Regions from separate parts of the Homo sapiens genome. Here region 1 is linked to region 2. The links come from fine-mapping of genetic effects on gene expression. Tissue or cell type: whole blood. Region 2 holds a variant in brackets; the other region holds the start of a gene. All regions are shown on one strand. Distances are from middle to middle.

Region 1 (3,014 bases), 41 kb before region 2:
GCCACGGCTGCCGCCACGGCCTTGGCTTGGCTCTGAGCAGCGGGGTAGGACGGTACCGGGAGGCTGCCTGCTGCTGGCCAGAACATGGGAAACGTCGGGTACACAGTGGCGGCGGCGGCCGCTGCAGCCACTGCCGCTGCGTCCTTGGCTGCCCCGGAGGGTTGATGCCCCCAGAACATGGCGCCGCCGCCCGGGCCCGCCCCTGCCCCCGGGGGCAAGTGGCTGGCTCCCGGGCCCCCCGCACCCCCGCCTGTCCCCGCGCCGCCGCCGCCGCTCCCAGTGCCAGGACCGCCCTTTGGCTCGCCCGCGCCTAAAACCGGGTCGTCCTTTTTGGGGCATAGGCCGAAGGCCGTAGGGAAGCCGTAAGGATGGGGGAAAAGTGGTGGGGGCAGCTTTTGCAGGAGCCCAAAGCCTTTGCTGGGCACCGGGATCACCGGGTAGCTTCGTACGCCGGCGCCGCCACCGGGCCCTCCTGGGCCCGCCGGGCCACTAGCTCCAGTCGCCAGGCCAAGTCCGCGCTGCGGGTGGGGTGGAGGTGGCCCCGGAGGCCCGGCAGCCTCATCTTCGCCACAGCGCAGGCTTTTGTGGGGCGGCGGGCCTGGGGCCATCTCTGCACCGCACCCTGGGCCACCGCCGCCACCGCCGCCAGCACCACCCTTCCCCTGCCCACCCGACCCGCCATTGGCACCGCCTCCGCCGCCTCCTTGTAGGGAGAAGGTCCGCTTGCGCGTGCCGCCATTAAACATGGCCTTGACGTCCTCCCAAGCATGGCTCAGTTCGTCTGTGGCCGACTTGTCACTGAGTTTGAGGTGACGACGCCAGGAGTTGAAGTTGGCGGCATCGGGCTGCGTGTACTTGGCGTCGGGTGTTCGGTGCGAGTGGAAGATGAACTTGTTGGGCGAGAAGTACATGCTGCAGTAGCCGCACTTGATGCACTTGGCACGAGAGCTGTTGTAACGCGCAGGGATGAAGCTACCACGCGAGCCCCACGCGCACTCGTGCACCACATCGAAGGCGAAGTTCTCGGGCAGCTTGGGTGGTTTGTGCTCGCCCAGGAACGACTTGCACAGGCGTTCGGCCTCTCGCTTAGTGATCATGCCGCAGCGGCGCGACGAGATGGGCATGGCCCCGGCCCGACGCAGAATCTCCAGCTGTACCGGCGTGCACTGCACGCACGTGATGCCCAGGGCCACGCGGCGGTTGTGGATCTCATTATAGCTGTAGTTCTTGAGGAGGGTGTTGGAGATCTGCGCCAGGCATAGGCGCTCCTGGCCGTCGATGACCAGCGACACAATGGGCACCCCGTACAGCGACGTCTCGCCCACCTGGTTGGGTTTGAGAGCGCTGGAGCCCGAGTACGGCTGCAGCTCCTGCTTGGAGTTGGGCGAGGAACTGCCCTCGCGCCCCGGCCCCAGCTGAGTGGTGAGAGCCTCCATGCCGCCGCTCCTGCGAAATAGAGAAAGCAGAGAGCAGATGAGCCATTTTCAGCGCCGCCGCCGAGGCTCGGGCCCGCCCAGCAGGGCGCTCCGAGTTGGGCGCGCGGGGGATACTTGGCAGTGGGGAGTCCAAACTCATTCACCCCCTGGACAGGCGTCTTTTGTTACTCAGACCCATGTTGGCGCCGTTAACAACAGCCCCCGGGGCTTGGGGGAGGAGAAGGGGTAAAGGAGACCTCAGGAATGCCCGGGCTGCAAGGAACCCAATCCCGTTTTCGGATTGGGAAGGAAGTGAAACCCAGATACGCAGAGTGACTTGCCCAAGGCCACACAGCAAAGCCATTGCCAAATCCTGGCTTTTTCAGCGCCCAGATCCGTGCGCCTTCGGCAACCCTCGCAGCCGGTGCTGCCGGCCCGGGTCCTGAAGCCCGGACTTCGGGGATCGGCCGCCCCTCTGCTCAGTCGCGCATGCACGCGGGCGGGCGGGGGCAGTGCAAGGAGGGGTGGGGAGGGGGGAGGGGCGGTCACTGCCCATCTCCAGACAGCAGGGGGTAGAGGGGGGTGAAGAGAAGGAGGGGGGTGAGGAGAAGGAGGAGGGAACCGTGTCTGCCAGGGAAGGAGAGAGGCGGAGGCTACCGCTGTTCGCGGTGCTGAACCTGACCCTCTCCAAAGCGCTCGGTGCGCACCCGGACCTAGCGCGGCCCCCACCGCACCCAGCTTGGTGCCCGAGCCGGCTTCAGGGGACAACATTGCCAGTTTCCACAAACCCGAGCTTCTCCTCTCACGGCTGGCGCCCGCGTTCGTTGAGCAGAAAGATTTCGGCTGGATATATAAACCGTTTTCTTTCCAGCTATTAGTGAGACCAGGATCCTGCAGTTCTAACCACATTTTCTGCATTTTTAGCTGTATTCCAGACCAAAGCTGGTTTCCACCGAGGTCAACGTGTGGGACAGAGAGGTTCTCAAGGAACTTTGTTGGGATCCACTTCTTAGCTTCCAGTCGCCCACTCCTTGAGCTTTCCTCCTTCAGATATACGTTTCCCACTCGGGCCAACTGCAGGATTCGGGGCTCTGGGCTTCCTCTTTGAGGGGCATCACCTCTCTGAGTATCCTTCATGCCTCGCTGTCCCGGCTCATATGGGCTAGAAGGAATCTCAGCCATCTTCGTAGCCATTGCAAGGCTCCAGGCACACAAGTTGCTGCTGGTCCTTGCACTTTGCTTTCTGGCTGAGGCAGGGAGGGAGCTGTGCAGGCAGACCTCAGCAGCGGGGGTACTTGGGGACTGATGTTTGGGGCCCTCTAGGTCGCCTGACCCAGCCACATGTCCTCAGACAAGCCAGGCTCCCATCCGGCCCAAGGCTGCAGGCGCTCCTGCGGCCAGGGCAGCCCAACCCTGAGGGCTCCTCCCCTGCAGTCGGCCCTGAATGTAACTCCGTTTTCAGAGGGGCAGCTCCAGACAGGGGATCCCAGTTCAAAAGCCTTCAGCAAGGAGACTGGAATCTTCTGTTTATCTGTCTCTCTCCCTTCTTCTCTATTTGTCTAGGAGACCCTCATTTGTCGATCTTATCTGTCCCTGAGC
Region 2 (2,500 bases):
ACCTGTGTTGGTGTGGACATCTGTGGGTTGTCTTCTCCTTGCTGTTTCCCCTCTCCCTTCAAGATGGACCCCGATTGTTTGGCTTCCTGTTTGTGTGACCTGACTACTTTGTTTGCATGTATGATGGATTTGTGTTTGCTGGATTAGTGTCTGATAGCCCTCTGTATTCCCTACAGCTGTGCCACTCAAGTAGTCGTCCTGTGAACTGCTTGCTGCTGGCCTGCAATGATACAAGTAGCCATGCTGCAATGTGAACCGCAAACAGCTTTCTTCGCTCACAACGTTTTGCTCCAAAAAGCTGAACTGAACTAAACAGAATGCTTTCAGACAGGCTTGATTTATATCCTGGCACAAATTCCTTATCTTCCTGTGTTTAAGAAACAGTTCGGGGCCGGGCACGGTGGCTCACACCTGTAATCCCAGCACTCTGAGAGGCCCAGGCAGGCGGATCACTTGAGGTCAGGAGTTTGAGACCAGCCTGGGCAACATGGGGAAACCCCGTCTCTACTGAAAATACAAAAATTAGCCATAGTGTTGTTCATGTGTAGTCTCAGCTACTCAAGGAAGGGCGGGTGCTGAGGTAGGAGGATCACCTGAGCCTGGGAGATTGAGGCTGCACTGAGCCAAGATCGTGTCACTGCACTCCAGCCTAGGTGACACAGTAAGACCCTGTCTCAGGGAAAAAACAACAAACAGTTCAGATACTACCACTGGTGCACAGCCCATACTCCGAGTTCAGCTAAACACGAATGTGCTCAGTAAAAAGTTTGTTGAGTTAAAGGTAATTTCTCCCAAACTTGAGGAACATCATCTCTTGGAAGTTGCCCATTTCTATACCCATGATGGCAGAAGTGGAAAGGCAGAAAGGTTTGTGACCAGACAGCTGTCAGGACACACTCTGCCCTCAGTTTTTGCCAAAACCAAAGAAACAATGATTACATAAATTCTCACAGCTTCCCCTCAGATAACCAACTAACAGACCAGGTGCAAACTGTTGGTAATTACTTCCTCTTTTGTGTTTTGTCTCTACTGAGGCTCAGGCTTCAACCAGGCCACCCTGCCACCTGGGGATGGGTGGAGAGTGTGTGCAGCCATCTGCTCTCTGCCTCGACCACGGCCCTGCAGATGCAGCCTGTGGCATCAAGGTGGAAGGGACCATAGGGAGGGAGTTGAGCAAAGCATCCTACAGGGGCATTGGCTTCACAAGCACACTCTGCTGAAATCCTACAAGTTTGTTTGTGTGGTCCTGTATTTGTATTTAGCTTTATTTTTCTAACTGCAAGAAATAGTTTGACTTAGCGGAAATTCTCTAAACCACAATAACAATCCTCTGCCTACTATGCAACAACGGGTGTAGCTTTGATGTTGTGCAGTAGGACAGTCCTGTGTTTTTCCTGGCTGTGTGACTCTAGGCAAGGAAATTAACCTCTCTGAGACCCAGTTTATGCATCAGTAAAATGGGAATAAGAATAATCCTTATAGTGTTCA[T/A]GTGAAGGTCAAATGAGATAACTTAGATGAAAGAATGCTCTAACTTAAGTGTTTAAAATGTTTTATGTTTAGATCCATTTCTCTCTATATAATAAATCAATTTTTTAAAGATTATAAAACAGGATCCTTTCTGGATTCATCTTCAGCCCCAAGTTAGGTGCAATTGTTACTTCAATCTCTTCAAGTTTGTTTAGAGAAAATAAATTGTAGTATGAATACTGGCTAGTGTGGCTATTAGAGGCTCTGGTACTTTTACTTATGATATAAGCTGCCTTTCACATCTGTGTGCAGAAAAGTAATATACTCACATAAATACCCAAATGTCCGTGGGTCCCAGCTCACCTGTCACTCCATTCTCAAAGCCTCCCCAGATACCCCTAGCAGAAATTCATTTCACTTGTTAAATTCATATCATTTAAATTCAATGACCATATATTTGAGCATTCTACTCAGGCTGGAGACTGGGCTAGATGCTAAGGATACAAAGATAAGACATGATCTCTTCCTCGAGGGGTTGTGGTCTCTTTTATTGACTGTTACCACAAGTTACTGCCACAAAGCGTGACGAGTGCACTAACAGAAGTATTAGCCAGGGTGAAGGGTGACAGGCAAAAGGAAGTCCTCAACCCAACTGAAGCACGCTTAGCAAAGCTTCACAGAGGTTGTGCCAGTTGGGTTTCGGAGGTGGAGAAGTTCACCATCTGGCGGTGAGAAAACAGCACAAGCAAAGACATGACTGTGTGAGGATGCCTCACGCATCTGGGGACTGCCAGAAGTTTGGAGCACAGGACTCCACAGGAGTGGCCTGAGGTGAAGGGGTAGGTGAGGGTGGGAGGAGAAGGTGAGCGGGGGTCTCTGGCAATTCTCACATTCTATCCTGTGCTTGGCTGTGTCTACCCTCACCTTCCTCACTGGACTGTGAGCTGGCTGGGGGGTCAGGACTTGGGGCTGACATGCTGCCTCCTCGGTGTCAGGCAGGATGCTGGGCACAGAGCAGATGCTAAGACATAAA

Evidence for each region. PIP is the estimated chance that this variant, and not a neighbour inherited with it, causes the effect.
Region 1: SKOR1 starts here. The variant in region 2 is the best candidate, but not a certain one, in a credible set for the expression of SKOR1 in whole blood (TOPMed, PIP 0.54).

What each region holds. Positions count from the first base shown.
Region 1 is chr15:67,824,368-67,827,381 of GRCh38, reverse strand. SKOR1 (SKI family transcriptional corepressor 1) reads right to left here and starts at 1,873. Exons shown (of 9, transcript NM_001365915.1): 1 at 1,673-1,873; 2 at 1-1,446. The coding sequence starts at 1,779. It overlaps LOC124903570, which reads right to left. Exons shown (of 4, transcript XM_047433429.1): 3 at 1,980-2,743; 4 at 1,798-1,869. The coding sequence ends at 1,798. RefSeq lists an enhancer at 1-605.
Region 2 is chr15:67,783,134-67,785,633 of GRCh38, reverse strand. All of the region lies in intron 21 of MAP2K5 (mitogen-activated protein kinase kinase 5), which reads right to left. Among named protein-coding and RNA genes, the nearest start is that of SKOR1, 41 kb to the left of the region's middle. The variant T/A (reference allele first, on the strand shown) is at 1,489.